2 separate regions of the Homo sapiens genome follow, and region 2 is linked to region 1. Evidence: fine-mapped expression QTL. Tissue or cell type: whole blood. Region 1 holds a variant in brackets; the other region holds the start of a gene. All regions are shown on one strand. Distances are between the middles of the regions.

Region 1 (8,100 bases):
ACACAGACACACACAGAAAGACACACACAGACACAAAATCACACACACACCCTCCCCGCCACAGAGACACACCATTACATACACAGACACACACAGACACACAATCACACACAGCCCCTCCCCGCCACAGAGACACACCATTACATACACAGACACACACAGACACACAATCACAGATACCCCCTCCCGGCCATAGAGACACACCGTTACACACACATACACAGAAAGACACACACAGCCCCTCCCCGCCACAGAGACACACCATTACATACACAGACACACACACACACACAATCACACACACACCCCCCGCCACAGAGACACACCGTTACATACACAGACATACACACACACACAGACATACACCAGACACGCAAAGACACACAGACACAGATACACAGATACAAAGACACAGACATATAGACACACAGACATGCACAGAGACACATGGAGACACATGCAAAAATGCACAGAGAAAGACATACAGAAGTGTACACACAGACACATAGACCACACAGACACACAGACATGCATGCAAACACACAGACATGCAGACATGCACACAAACACAGACTCACGCACACAGACTTAGGCAGCCCAAATTCAGCGCCTGGGGCATAAGTTCCTGGAGGGGTGGCCACCTTCAGCCCCCACGGTAAGGTCCTGAGGAACCTTCCCCTTAGACAAGGGATCATGGAGGAGGTCTCTTCCGGAGCCTGGAGGGAGGCCTCAAGTGGTCCTTCCACCTCGGCATCCCAAAGTGCTAGGATTATAAGCATGAGCCACTGCACCTGGCCCCAACATCATTTATTGAACAGACTGTCGTTTCCACATTGTGTTTCTTGGCATTTCTGTCAAAAATCAGTTGACCGTAAATGCATGGATTCACTTCCGGGCTCTCTATTCTGTTTCATTGGTCTGTTTGTTTTTATGCCAATACCATGATGTTTTGATTATTATAGCTTTATAGTATATCTTGAAGTTAGGTAGTGTATTGTCTCCAGCTTTGTTCTTTTTGCTTAAGATTGCTTTGGCTATTTAGGGGTCTTTGTGGCCATTACTGACAGTTAAAATGGCCCTGGCTCATGTCTCCTGGGCCTCTACAGTACTTTAGGTGGGGAAGTACTGTGGCCCACATGTCCCAACAGGCTGTGTGTGGCACCTGACAGTGCTTTGTGCCACTGTGGAGCAGGTGTTACTCCCTCATACGAATTTTAGGATTATTTTATTTATTTCAGTGAAAAATGTCAATGAAATTTTGATAGGGATTGCATTGAATCTGTAGATTGTTTGGGGTTGTATGGACATTTTAACAATATTAATTCTTCCAATTCATGAACATGGGATGTCTTTTTTTTGGCACCTGATCTCAGATATGGGACAGCTTTCTAATTATTTGTATCTTCAATTTCTTTCACAAATGTTTTATAGTTTTCAGCATACAGATCTTTCACTTCCTTGGTTGGATTTATTTGCAAGTATTTTTTGTAGCTATTGTAAATGACATTGTTTTCTTGATTTCTTTGTTAGGGTATAGAAATGCTACAGATTGTTGTATGTTAATTTTATATCCTGCAACTTTACTGATTTCATTTATTCTAACATCTTATTGGTGGAATCTTTAGGGTTTTCTATAAGATCATGTCATCTGTAAACAGGGACAATTTAAGTTCTTCCTTTCCAATTTGGATACCTTTTATTTCTTCCTCTTGCCTAATTATTTTGGCTGAGGGCCAACTTGTTGGGTTTGTTGTTGTTGGTTTTTGTCTGTGTCTTTTGGTGTTTCGTGTTGCTGGCTTTTCCAGCACACAGTCACAGATATATGAGGCAGAAAGAAAACCCAGGGAACTCCTGTCATGTCATTCCTCAGGTCCCAAGGTCCCTACATGGTCTGCCTTCTTCTCTCCACCTTTTAGTGTTTGATATACATACGTTTATGTATGTAGTTATATATGTATGTGTAATACCCAGGGAAATATACAGAGATTTTAACTGTCCTTAGTGTAGGGCGTGGGGACAGGTGCATCTATTCTACCTTGCTTGGAAGTGGAAAAATCTTCAAGAAATCAATTTATCACCAACTGGCATGACAGAACTCCTGGTTTAGTGTCTAGCTGTCTCCACTAAAATCAATCACCATGCCATCAGGCACTCTCTTCCCTCTGGTGTGTACTGGTACCTGAAACAGCGTCCAGCACCCTGAGAGCACAGAACGCAGCTTCTTATGTGCCCCACCCAATAATCCCAAATCGAGCACAGACCTGGGAGCTGAAGAGACAAGCTGGAGGTCAGGCAGTTCTATTACTTAAGCCTGGTTCTTCCTGACTCCAAAAGCCAGGCGCCACCCCATGCTCCTTCCCAGCAGAAGCTGGTTTTCACCGGGTCAGGAGGACAGGATGGCTATTCCTGACCGTTGTACAGCAGTGCCACATCTCCTAGTTTCCAGAACATTTAATGTGTTGCTGTGGAGGCCTGGCAGCTCTGAAGTAGCCCCTTGCGCCCAGGACAAACCGGGCCTGGAGGGGTGGGGTGGGGTAAGCTGAAGCTTCCAGTATCCCACGTGGGCATTCTGTTGCTGAGGGCAACCGCCCCTCCCTGCAAGGGAGGGGAAGGAGCAGGCAGGCACACCCTTCCTCCCTCCACATTTCACTGGAGTTGACCTGTGTCCTACTGTGGTTGCACCTGGACCAGCCCAGAGGGACTGGAGTGACTCTTCCCGCAGGTAGGGCACAGCCAGCCTGGGCACAGGGCCTCACTGCAATCCCTGCGCCCCGCCTCCCTGGGGGATTTCCAGGGGTTGTCCTGCTGCTTGGTGAGCTGGGGGTGTGGGGGACCACAGATGAGGCAGGCGCCTAAATTGCTTGGGCGGAGTCCGGCTGCTCTCTCCCTCCAGGCCCTTTCCTGTGTCCTCGGGCCCCTCGGGTCCCTGCACCAGGCCAGCAGCAATCGGGTGTCAGAGGTTCAAGTCCAGGCTGACTCCTGGGACGCACCGACTTTGCCCAGGAGGGCTGGGGAGAGGGCAGCCCCAAAGTGTCATCTTTGATTATTCTTTGTCCCCAAAGCCAGCCTTGGGCATGTGCCCAGCACAGGGAGAGCTGCTGCCTCTGTGGGCTTGAGTCATTTTTGCTTCCTTGCCCCTCTCTGCTCTGTTTGGTTTAAAAAACAAAAACCAACACCCATGGGTGAGGCGAGGCGAGGCGAGGCTTGCCTTGATCCACCC[G/A]CTTCCTCCCCTGCAGCCTCGGGCCCCATCCTCCCGCGTGGCCGCACTAGGGGTGCTGGGGGCGGAGTGGGGACCAGACCTGAGTGGGTTCTGGGTTCAGCTTCGCAGCAGGAGCAGCTGGGGCATCATCAGTTGGGCAGGTGACCCAGGATCTGAGCAGGAATCTTCCAGGTGGAGGTGGGGCCGCCCCTCTGCTTGCCACAGCTGCCTTCTGCTCTGGGGGCAGCACTGGCTGAGAATCCAGTGAAGTAAGGCCTTTGAAATGGTTTTGATTGTAAAAGTAATGTTTATGTTTAGCCATTCCTTTTTTTATTTTTTATTTTTTGAGACGGGTCTCCCTCTGTCACCCAGGCTGGAGTGCAGTCGTGAAATGTGGGCTCACTGCAACCTCCACCTCCCAGGTTCAAGTGATTCTCCTGCCTCAGCCTCCTGAGTAGTTGGGATTACAAGTGCCTGCCACCACACCTGACTAAGTTTTGTATTTTTTAGTAGAGATGGAGTTTCACCATGTTGGCCAGGCTGGTCTCAAACTCATATCCTCAAGTGATCCACCCTCCTCGTCCTCCCAAAGTGCTGGGATTTTGCCATGAGCCACCACGCTCAGCCATGTTTAGCCATTTTTAAAAGGTGTGAACAGATAATTAAGTCTATTAGCAACATTAGAAAATTTAAGTTAAAATTTAAATGACTCTAGCAAGAATTAGCCTTTAGGTGCCCTGGGTCCCCCTCCTCACCGCCCCCCACCCCGCCGCCTTCTGAGAAGCGTTTTGTAATTTTTCTTATTTATAAAATGGGTTTGATTCAAAACTGACTTTTCCTCTTCACAGTCTCACAGGTCCTTCCCCAGGTCCAAGAGGCTCTTCTGTGTCCTGATGACAAGTAGCTGCCTAGCCGTGGTGGCACCTCCTATCACATGTTAAGGGACCCCTCCCCAGGGCCACACCTGGCAGAAGGTGGCTTATGATGTTCGCAGCTTGAAAGTAGTGTAAACCAAAGATAAAATTCTAAGCCCACTCCCCCAGCCATCGGAATGGACCCCTCCTCTTGGCCAGGGCACTCCAAAGTTAACCTGAAAAACCGGTTCAGGCTGTGAAGAGAAGGTGGAGTGGACATGCCTCATTTATGTCCTCCTCCCTTTTGGAATTCAGCAAAGCTGACCAGCATGAACATTAACACAGACCTTAAGTCTGATTAGTGGCATTTACAATCTATACTCTCTGAAGCGTGCTACCTGGAGTCTTCCTTTGCATGATAAAACTTTGGTCTCCACAACCCCTTATCATAACCTAGACACTCCTTTCTAGTGATAATAACTCTTTCAACCAATTGCCAATAAAAAAATTTTGAATCTACCTATAACCTGGAACCTCCCCGCTCCACCTTCGAGTTGTCCTACCTTTCTGGACAGAAGCAATGTGGATCTTGCATGTATTTGATTGATGTCTCATGTCTCCCTAAAATGTATACAATTAGGCTGTGCCCAGATCACCCTGGGCACATGTTCTCAGGCCCTCCTGAGGTCTCTGTCTCGGGCCATTGGTCACTCAGATTCGGCTCAGAATAAATCTCTTCAAATATTTTTCAGAGTTTGACTCTTTTTGTCGACAATAAGCTCATCAGATTAAAGCTGTTGGAACTTTAAATTACTTCGAGCCTTGAAAGAATGTGATTCTGACACCCTAGTCAAGCAGCAAGTCGCTGTGAACTTTGCTTCTCCAATTATAGATTAACGCTCTTCCTTTCTTGATTTGTAAAATGTTATGAAAGACTAAATGGCACCAGATGTAAGACCCCTTCCCTTTCTTAGTTACTGACCTTTTGTTACGAATTAACTTCTTTCTTTTCTTGCACCCAACTCAGACCAGATGGTACAAAAGACCCCATGCCTATCAAATTCCATAAGACAGTATGTTAAATATACTTTTCCCGAAGGGAACAGGATATAACCAAACAAATTGCTGCAACTCATAAGCCAATCTTATGTGGAAAATGTAATCATGCTAAACCTCCTTGTATTTTCCCATTTAAGTGAAGCCCTAATCCCTCCACCTCAGAGCACTGAGCCCATTCCTTTAGAGTCTGTGTTTTTTGAGTGGTGGTCGTCAAACTTAGAGTTCGAATAAACTCTATAACATTGGATTTTGAACCTTTCAATTATTTCAGGTGGCAGAAGAAACACACAGACCCCATCTCTTCCTTTGGAGTTCTGTACTGCTCATTTCAAAGGGATTTCATCCTGCCCTCTGTAACCACCCAAGGGGTTCCTCCTGCTCCCTTTCTAAATAAAGACCATGCATTCCAGTAAAGAAAGAGTTTAATAGACATGAGGCCAACCACATGGTAGAGAGAGTTTGTACTCAAATCATCTCATCAAAGGCTCATAGCTAGGGGTTTCTCAAGGCAGTTTGGGGGGTCAGGGGTGGCCAAGTAACAGGTACTGATTGGCTGGGGCAGACATGAACTCATGGAGGGTCAAAGCTGTCCTCCTGCAGGCTAAATCGCTTCTTAGGGGGGTGTCACAGGAGTGAGGTTGGGGGTTCCAGGTAGAGCCATGGGTATCAGACCTGCAAAAAACCTGAAAAGATATCTCAAAAGACCAATCTACAGTTGGGGAAATTGTGTATTTTGCTAGAGAGGTCTACACCTTAGCTTCTCCCTCTCGCCTCATAGCTTTTCATTAGGTTTACACAGGCAGAAGAGTTTTGGGGGAGGCCTGCTGTTATTTAAACTATAAATTAAATGTCTCCCAAGGTTAGCTCAGCCCAAAAGCCCAGGAATCATTAAGGGAAAGGAAAGATGAGGGGCGGGTTAGCTCAGCTCACTCTTACAATTTTTCTAATTGATAGAGTTTTTGCAAAGGCGGTTTCACTTTCAGCGTGGTCGTTCTCCTAACCTCTCCTGCTTCCCCAGGTCCTCACCCTAAACCAGCACCCATCCTGCACTCCCAGGGTGAACCCTCCCTTCCCTCCTGCTCACCTGGGCCCAACCCAGTTTCCCCCCAGGAGCTGCGGAAGGGCCCAGTGGTGCCACCTTGGCCTCCAGGCATCACTCTCCAACTTCTTCCCTCCTCCCTCCACAGGACCCTTGCCTCAAATGTCAGTCCCGCTGCTCTCTGCTGCACTCAGCCTCTTCCTGGCAAGTGTGCCCCTCCCCTCTTGAAGCCATCACCAGCCTCTCGTGCCCACCCCCATCTAGGCCCCCCACTCCTCTCCAGTCCCGGTGTCTTGGAAGAGCCTCTGGATCACAGGGGCTGGGAAATTCGACTTGTCATCCCCACCAAGCAAACACATGCTTCCATCCAGGGCCCCTCAGTGGGTGAAGGCTGAGCCCCAGTAAAGGATAGATCATCACTGTCAGAGGCGAGTGAACTAGAGCGACTCCATGTTGAATAGGGACTGGGTAAAATGAGGCTGAACCTTCTGCACTGCATTCTCAGGGGGTTAGGCATTCTTAGTCACAGGATAAGATAGGAGGTTGGCAGGATTAGTATCACAAGATACAAGTCACCAAGACCCTGCTGATCAAATGGGATGCAGTAAAGAAGCCAGCCAAAACCCACCAAAACCAAGATGGCGACAAAAGGAACCTCCAGTTGTCCTCACTGCTCATTATGCGCTAATTATAATACATTAGCTGCTAAAAGACACTCCCACCTGTGCCACAACAGTTTACAAATGCCATGGCAACGTCCAGAAGTTACCCCATATGGTCTAAAAAGGAGAGGGACCCTCAGTTCAGAAAAATCCCCTCCCCTTTCTTGGAAAACTCACAAACAATCCACCTGTTGTTGAGCCTATAATCCAGAAATCAGTATAAGTATACTCAGCTGAGATCCAAGAACCCTGTCTTGGGGTTTGGACTGGGACTCCTTTCTGGTAACAATACTAGGGTATACGGAGCCCCCACATCCCCGGGCAAGTGGTGCAGAAGCCGGAGCCATCAGCAGCCGCCCCTGGCAGGCTCCTGTGTGGACTCCTTGCTGCAGGGCATTTGGTTTACCAGGCGTGAGAGACCCACACGTGAAGCGCTAGCCCAGCCCCATCACCGCAGCACAGCCTCACCACTGCAGCCCAGAAAAACCACTGCAGCCCAGACACACGACTGCAGCTGAGGCCCATCACTGCAGCCCAGACACACCACTGCACCCACTGCAGCTCAGCCCACCACTGCACCCCAGCCCCACCACTGTAGCTCAGCCCGACCACTGCAGCCCAGCCCACCATTGCAGCCCAGACACACCACTGCAGCCCAGCCCACCACTGCAGCCCAGCCCCACCATTGCAGCCCAGGCCCTGCAGTTGTCCCTACTAGGTCTGAGTGGAGGAATCAGAGAGAAAACTCTGGAAAGTGCTAGACACAGGGGAGGCCCTCAAGGAATGGTGGCTGCCACTGGGAACTCTGTTTCTGTGGTGCTTACTGGACAGATAGGCTCCTTTGCAGATTTTTTTATTCCAAAACTAAGCTCCCATCACCCAGTCCTGTCCTCCCTGCTGGCAGAGCTTGTCCCTGGATCCAAGCTGTCTCCTCTGCACCAAATCCGGTGGCCTCAAGTCCCAGCTCTGCTTTGCACAGGGGCTTTTCGAAGCCCTGTCTCCCCTGCTGTGAGATGGGGGTCACCCAGCTGCCCCCCAGGGGGTGGTGTTGCTGACGGAGCAGGTGAAGACAATGCCAAGAGCTGCGCGTGGTCTGGCTTTCCCAGGCTGGATGTGCCCCTCTGATCCTCAGTCTCCCCACATGGACAATGGCTGATGCCGACCACCCACACTAGGTTTGCCCCAGAGTCAAAGTGAGCTCCTTGAGGACAGGGAACTGACCCCCACACAGGGCCCCCCAGGATCTGCTTGAGGAGGCACCAGGCAGTTCTCCCAGAAGGCAGGGCG
Region 2 (8,100 bases), 120 kb before region 1:
AGGGCCTGGTGTGTGACCTTAGCCCTGTGTGACCTTGAGCCAGTCCCCATCCTCTCTGGGCCTGGCTCCCTTTTGGTAAAACTGGTGACCCAGCACTGGGTAGCACGGTGTCCCCCAGTGAGGTGGCCTGAATTCAAATCCTCTTGGAAATTGTGTGACCTTGCCTAGTCTGGCGCTGCATTGAGCCTCACTGTCTTTGGCTATAAACAGGGTCATTGTTTCTGCTTTACAGGGTTGACGGGAGATGAAGTGAGTCAGTGCCTGGCATACAGCACGTGATGCGTAAATGGTGGGAGGTGGTGGTGTTGGAGTAAAAATTAGCATTGCTTCCCCATCAAGGTGACAGAGCTTCACGCACCCCCACATCTACCCCAACCAGATTAGTCTCCGCAAGTGTCAGCAGCGAGGAATCCAGCTGCCGCATCAGGAAGCTTCTCCAACATGGGAAGAGCTTGTATTGGGGAAAATCACAGTCACAGAACCACCCGGCATGGGATGCACAGGCTTGGCCTCTTACCTGCTTTATCACATGCTTGACTTTGGTTTCCATTTCCTCCACCACCAGGTTCACCCCCAAGGCCCCAGGATTCAGCTGGTACAAAACCTATCAGCAAGGAAGAGAGAAGCTTTCAGGAAATGCACACAACTTTTCCCTTTCCAAAAGCCCAGCTCCAACTCCTTTTCTGGCCCTGCTAACTCCCCTGTCAGGCTGGCAGAGCAAGTGGCTCCACCCCATCTTGCAATAGAGGAAATGGCCCAAGGAGGGCAAGAAGCCTTTCAATGGCAGAACTCTGATCTCACCTATTTGGGGCCGATTCTGGAGCTCTTCTACAACCCTGTATCCCTCCCCCAACCTGCAATGAGGACCAGCTGGGCACTCAAGTGCAAGAACCTCCCAGAGAAAAAGGGCTTATTCACTCTCTATAGACCTCTGTGACCTCAACTTCCAGCATCCACCTCCCAACTGGTTTCCAACAAGAAAGTAACCAATCTTGTGACTGGTACAATCAGGAAGCCATTGTGTGCCTGGCATGGTGCCAAGCACTTCACAGCCACCCTTTGCAGTTGACACCATTGCTACCTCTGTGTTTACATTGGGGAAAACTGAGGCACAAGGAGCTAGGTCCTTGCCTGAGGCTATGTCACTAGAAAGCAGGACACTGCCTGGGGTAACTCTGGGGGTCTGATCTTAGAGCCTGTGATTTGAGCCAAATCTGGAGAGATGGCCACCAAGCCAGAACTCTGTGCAGAGACCAAGTGCTATGGGGCAGGGGGCTGGGCCGGGGATTGCTGGAGGCTGACATTCATCAGAGGATTGGGGGAGGGAGGGCAGGACCCAGAGGAGGAGATATGAGGATGGAAGCCTGAGCCTAGGGACTCTCGGAGCCCATAAAAGTCTTAGGAGTCTGTAATCCAGCCTTGTGAGCAGCCTGCTCATGACACTGGATATTCTAAGCCAGGGGTCCCCAACCTAGTCCGTGGCCTGTTAGGAACCAGGCTGCACAGCAGGAGGTGAGCAGCAGGCAGTGGAGCAAAGCTTCATCTGTATTTACAGCCGCTCCCCATGGCTCGCATTACCACCCAAGCTCCACCTCCTGTCAGCTCAGCAGCAGCATTAGATTCTCATGGGAGTGTGAACCCTATTGTGAACAGTGCATGTGAGGGATCCAGGTTGCATGCTCCTTATGAGAAACAAATGCCTGATGATCCGTCACTGTCTCCCATCATCCCGAGAGGATGGTCTAGTTGCAAGAAAACAAGCTCAGGGCTCCCACTGATTCTACATTATGGTGAGTTGTGTAATTATTTCATTATGTATTACAACATAATAATAGAAATGAACTGCACACTAAGTGTAATGTGCTTGAATCATCCCAAAACCATCCTCCCGCCTCCATCTGTGGAAAAATTGTCTTCCACAAAACTGGTCCCTTGTGCCAAAAAGGTTGGGGACTGCTATTTTTTTTTTTCTTTCTGAGACAGAGTTTTGCTCTTGTTGCCCAGGCTGGAGTCCAATGGCGCTATCTTGGCTCACCACAACCTCTGCCTCCTGGGTTCAAGCGATTCTCCAGCCTCAGCCTCCCGAGTAGCTGTGATTACAGGCATGCGCCACCACACCTGGCTAATTTTGTATTTTTAGTAGAGACAGTTTCTCCATGTTGGTCAGGCTGGTCTTGAACTCCCGATCTCAGGTGATCCGCCCGCCTTGGCCTCCCAAAGTGTTGGGGATTACAGGCGTGAGCCACCGAGCCCGGCCAGGGACTGCTGTTCTAAGCCACAGCGGGCTGAGGGCAGAGCTGGTGTGAGAGCGTTCAAGCTTAGGCAGCAAATTAAACAGTAAAATGGAGCCGTATCTCGAATCAAGTCTATTTTTTTTTCCAAAAGCAGGTATATTCCTGAAACGTCTATTTTTTTTTAATCTGAAAAACAACTTTACTTTAAAAATTATCTGGCCACCAGAAGCTCATCTGCTTCACCTCTGGCAACGCCCTATAGTCCTCTCACACAAAGACAATTCTTCCAAAGTGACAAAAATCTAACCCGCAAACTGTTTCCAAGCGAATGCATTTTTCACAAATGCTGAATCTAACATTTAATAAAGTGTATATATCATGTATAGAAGCATTTAATTAAACATTTACTTTTATTTTGCAGCTTTCCTTTTGTGTTTTGTGAATTTTTTAGGTCTCAAACATTTTCACAGACCCACGCTGCAGGGGTGTTTTTAGGGGACTGGGGGCTCCCAATTATGTACTCGGGATGTTCCCGGGGGTCCTGCCTCGGTGGACCCAAGCGCACAGACCCCAGGCACGAAGGATAGAGGAGCTGCCCCACGCCCTCAAATACTCAGCCAGGGCTGGAGAATCCTTAGTCAATTCACAAAGGGGGAAACTGAGTGGCAAAGGGCACCCAGGAGGTCACCGTTGGAGGCCCCCCGGGTTCAACCTAGGAGCTGCAGGCCGACACTGGCCAGGGCGCGGGCCCCTCGCCGCCCTCGGTCGGAACCGCCGGCCGTAGCTCCAGGGTTGCGACCGTTACCCCACGGAGCTCCCGCCTCCCCGCAGGGAACACTCGGCACCTGGTACTTCTCCATGGGCTCTCCGGGGGACCCTGGGCCTCGCTCCCCCTGCGTGGGGCGCCTGCGATTGGACCCTGGCCCAAGCATGATCAGTAGCGACCGCGTACGGGCGAGCGTCCACCCCTGGCCCCACCCCGCGTGGGTCAGTGGGACCCGCGGGATCCTCCCCGCCCGAACGGCGCCCTCGAGGCACTCAGGCGTCCCTCCCGCGCGCTGGCCCCAGACCCCCAGGTCCCCGCCCCCTTAAAAGGGACGCGTTCCGCCGGGCCGGGAGGGACCGCAGGGCCTGCGCGCGGCGGGCGGGGCCTCCAGCGTGAGAGGCGTGGCGTCGAGCGCGGCGGGCGTGGCTTCGAGCGGATGGGTCGGGAGGCTGGGGATGGCGCGTGGCCCCTTTAAGACGCACCGGGGCGGGCCCGGGCGGCGCGCGGCCCCTTTAAGGCTTGGCCTACGTGGCAGCCGCTGGAGCCGCAGCCGACGCGGAGCGAGGCCGGCCGCCGGGCACTTCCTGTGGAGGCCGCAGCGGGTGCGGGCGCCGACGGGCGAGAGCCAGCGAGCGAGCGAGCGAGCCGAGCCGAGCCTCCCGCCGTCGCCATGGGCCAGAACGACCTGATGGGCACGGCCGAGGACTTCGCCGACCAGGTGCGGCCTGCGGGCTCCTCCCCCGGCCCCGGTCCCGACCCAGGCCGCCCGGGCCGCTCCGGAGTCGGCCTCCCAGCGCAGGGCGCCAGGCCCGGGCCGCCCCCTGACTCCTTGTTCCCACAGGGGGACCCCCCCGCCCGGGCCCTCTGTCCCGGCTGGACAGCCCCAAACCCGGCCTCCGGGCCCAGTCTCCCCTGCCCGCTGGGCCGCTCCCGGAGCCCGGGCCTCGGCGCCCTGCCTGGCTAGCCGCCCCCACCCTCCAGCCAGCCCGGGGCGCGGGCTGTGGGGGTTTCTTCCCGGGCCGGCGGCGCGAGTCCTGGCGTTGGGTCGGGTCTGAGGCTCGCGGGGAGCGCCTCGGCGTTTGGAGCTGCTGGGGGGTCCCCGCACGTTTTTCCTCTCACTGGGGCTCCCGGAGGCGGGCTGGGAGCTCGGGGACGAACGGGGGCCGGGGGTCCTCCCAGAGGAAAGGGGGCGCGCTGGCGTGCGCCCCAGCTACAGGAAGCCACAGCACCTTTTCCTTTTCTCTTTCCCAGATGTGCTGGACTCTTGGGGTCCCTTTGACCCTGTCTGCGTCTCCCTCCCCGTTTGGACTCTGCCCTGGGCTGGATTGAGTGGGGACCTGTACACAGCCTGGGAGGAGGGGAAGCCTATCTCCCTGATAGTCTCCTTCCAGAAGTGTCCAGGTGGCATTCTGAGCAACAGGGAAGCCTTTGAAACAGGCGGTTGGGTAACTGTTGAGAGCATTCGGGAACTGGGTGGACAGGATCCGATCCTACAAAGTGAAGGGACACAACTCCCTTCCCTCTTTCTTGATTAAGCTTGACAGAACAAAAAAACAAAAACAAAAGGTGGTGGTGGTTACGCAGATTTATGCCTTTTACTTCTAAAAGAATCCCGTTATGTCGACAAATTAACAGCCTTATCCCCGCAGGGAGAGCCTTGTGTGGCCCACTTGCCGTTTTTTCCTCGGTTTACTTAATGTGTTCGTGTGGCTTTGCTAGAGTTTTAAGTAGTGATGGTTAAATTTTTAAATTTTTCTGGAGGTGGTAGTGAGTCATCAAACTCTGAGGCCTAGACTTATCGGAAGGCTTGTATATGTGTGGTTTAAAAAAAAAAGAAAAGAGTAAGTGACCGTTTTCTGATCAGCTATTGAACTCTTCCGTTCCTCCTGGGGGGTGATCTCTTTCTAGTGTGACCTCACCATCGGTTCTCATTGCAACACTTTCTGTGAGCCAATATTTTAAATTTGGAGGGAAAAAGTAATCAACTTGACGAAGCATTTTTTCCCTAAGATTCTGATTTTGTGCTTAAAGACACAATTTTATTTGTTTATTTATTTTTATTTATTTATTTTTTCTTTGAGATGGTGTTTTGACCTTGTTGCCCAGGCTGGAGTGCAATGGTGTGATCTCAGCACACCACAACCTCCAACTCCTGGGTTCAAGCGATTCTCCTGCCTCAGCCTCCCGAGTAGCTGGGATTACAGGCATGCACCGTCACACCCAGCCAATTTTGTATTTTTTTTTTTTTTAGTAGAAACAGGGTTTCTCCATGTTGGTCAGGCTGGTCTCGAACTCCCGACCTCAGGTGGTCTGCCCACCTCAGCCTCCCAAAGTGCTGGGATTACAGGCGTGAGCCACGGCACCCAGCCTTTAAAGACACAATTTTAAAAACAATTCATATCAAAAGCTCTCAAGAACCAGGTAGACCTTTTAGGTTTGTCAGTTTTCATTGACATAATTTATAGTGACCCATTTATATTTCTCCAAGTCGCAGCTCCCTAAGAAGATGGCTCCTCATAGCTGAGGGAAGGATGAGAGCTACATACACTCGCTCTTTGTCCTGGAAAACCTGGATTTGCAAGTGAATTTCATAACCAAATCTAGATCAAATGTCTCCAGTCAAGCTGCTGCCCACTAGCAAATGACAGACTCCCCTATTGACAAAAAAAAGTTCCCAGTGTCTTCACATACTGTTTTCTTCTTCTTTTTTTTTTTTTTTTTTTTTTTTTTGAGACAGAATTTCGCTCAGGCTGGAGTGTAATGGTGCGATCTCGGCTCACTGCAACCCCCGCCTCCCGGATTCAAGCAATTCTCCTGCCTCAGCCCGAAGTAGCTGGGATTACAGGCGCCTGCCACCACGCCCAGCTAATTTTTTTGTATTTTTAGTTGAGACGGGGTTTCCCCATGTTGGCCAGGCTGGTTTCGAACTCCCGACCTCAGGTGGTCCGCCTGCCTTAGCCTCCCAAAGTGCTGGGATTACAGGCGTGAGCCACCCTGCCCTGCCTTTTCTTCATGTTTTGTTATTATGTTTTTTTTGGAGACAGAGTCTTACTTTGTCACCCAGGCTGGAGTGCAGTGGCGCAATCTCATCTCACTGCAACCTCCGCCTCCCGGGTTCAAGCTATTCTCCTGCCTCAGCCTCCTCAGTAGCTGAGATGACAGGCCCACGCCACCACGCCCCGCTAATTTTTGTGTTTTTAGTAGAGACAGCATTTTGCCATGTTGTCATGTTGTCCAGGCTGGTCTCAAACACCTGACCTTAGGTGATCCGCCTTGGCCTCCTAAAGTTCTGGGATTACATGCCTGAGCCACCGCGCCCAGCCTTCATCATGTATTCTGTTATGTTTTAAATGAAAGAAGCAGTAGCTTGGAACTGGAAAGGCTCTTGAGGGGGCACAGAGTCGACCTCTCCCAGGTTACTGAGGGGAGGCCAAACCTGCTCAGGCTCCTAGACTTGCCTGTGACCAAGACCAAGAAAAGCCGGGTCTTGGTCCCCAGCGCCCCCAGCCCCTGGTGTTGCTCTTCTGGCACAAGTCAAGGGAAGAGCACTAGCGGGTGAAGGGGCTGCTCACATACAAAACCCAAGTGGGTTAGGACCATATCTGTAAGGCACCATATCTGTAAGGCAGCGCAGGCTGCCGCCGTCAGATGATCTCCTTAAGAGTCCGTCTAGGTGGTGGCAGAGCATGGCTGTGGGAGCTTCCATGCCCTTTTGTGGGCAGCTTGGGAGGGCAGCTACTTGTACTCGCCCAAACCCCAATCAGACAGATGCAGGCAAGTAAACAGGGTTCGAAGTCAAAATATGGCTTCTTGTGGACAGAATCTGACCAAGCCCAGGTGGGGCTTTGTTTCTCTTTATTCACATAGTACTTAAAGCTGCCAGACCAGGCTTTTACATGAAAATGACCTAATTTGAAGCCGATAGAGGATTACCATGGAAGTCACTGATCAGATAAAGTGACACATCCATTTTTTCACATCTTCAGAAAACAAGAGCAAAACTGAAGTGACAAGATTTGACCAGAAAGTGTGGGCTGCTGAAAGCAAGACCTAAGTAAGCTTAGTTTCCCAGGCCCAGTGTCTTCCAGTATTATGACAATGACATTAAGTCTTTCACTGGGCCGGGTCCATGATAGACATTCCTTTTGTGAACTTCTTGACTGTAGGAGGTTGGCCAGAGCGTCACCATCTTCAGATGGGCAGAGGGAGGTTGGCTGGCCGCACTGGCTTGTGGTGGCCTGGAGACTGAGTCCGCATCCTGTTACCCCAAAGGCTGGGTTCCTCACTGCTTGGTTGACTGATCTTTCCTTCTGGCCTGCAGAGGCTGGTCCACGGGGACGAGCAGTCTGGTTAGTTTCTGCTGGCAGGCTCCCCACAGTTGCATCTCTTGTCTCTCTGCCTCTGGCATCAAGCTGCTTGCTCTGGCAGCCAGGGACAGTGTCCTCTTGCTCCCAGGAGCCATGCTCTGTAGAAACTGCTGAGACGTGCTCTATGCAGGAGCTTGGCATTTGGAAGCCATGGGAAGGGTCCAGAAACTAATGAACTCAGCAATCCAAACTAATGTCCATGCCTGCAGCTGCTCCTCATTGCCTATTAGACACTCTGTAAAATGTAGCTTCTAAGCAGTTTATACCCATAAACAGCAATATTAGCACTTAATGGGTTCTGCCTGGTGGCTCATCACCAAGGTGACAGAAAAGCTGCATGGGGCCTTCCTCTCCAGTGTGACCTTTGGTGTTTTTAACCTGTCCTCAAGAGTGGCAGAGCTAGTCCTGGGCCCTAGGAGCTGGCCTCGGCCCTAGTTGAAGTGCTGGGGAAGCAAGGATAGGCCTGAGGACCCCTGAACTTGCAGGTGGCACAGGCACTGTGAGGGTCCCGATGAACACCATGCTGGTGACTGGTGTGGCAAAGTCCTGGTGACAGTGGCAGGCTCTGTCATACCCTGCCCTATATCATGAAGGAGTGGGGAGAGAAGGCAAAGAGGAGCTGACTCACTTTTCTTTGTGTGATGATCTTAACGGGAGGTTAAAACTCACTCTTCAGGGGAGTGCGGGCGAGGAGCAGAGGAGGTTGTGGTTAGCGGGGCTCCTCCCAGAACAT

Evidence for each region. PIP is the estimated chance that this variant, and not a neighbour inherited with it, causes the effect.
Region 2: it holds the start of SURF4, and the variant in region 1 is fine-mapped to the expression of SURF4 in whole blood (TOPMed, PIP 0.99).

What each region holds. Positions count from the first base shown.
Region 1 is chr9:133,247,100-133,255,199 of GRCh38, reverse strand. It overlaps the pseudogene ABO. Among named protein-coding and RNA genes, the nearest start is that of OBP2B, 42 kb to the right of the region's middle. RefSeq lists a silencer at 679-1,466, a cis regulatory region at 2,599-2,644 and enhancers at 2,543-2,761, 1,786-3,366. The variant G/A (reference allele first, on the strand shown) is at 3,221.
Region 2 is chr9:133,371,540-133,379,639 of GRCh38, reverse strand. It overlaps SURF4 (surfeit 4), which reads left to right and starts at 3,580. Exons shown (of 6, transcript NM_033161.4): 1 at 3,580-3,718. The coding sequence starts at 3,671. It overlaps STKLD1 (serine/threonine kinase like domain containing 1), which reads right to left and starts at 3,274. Exons shown (of 18, transcript NM_153710.5): 1 at 3,080-3,274; 2 at 518-604. The coding sequence starts at 3,166. RefSeq lists silencers at 3,036-3,535, 3,626-3,865, 3,876-4,155.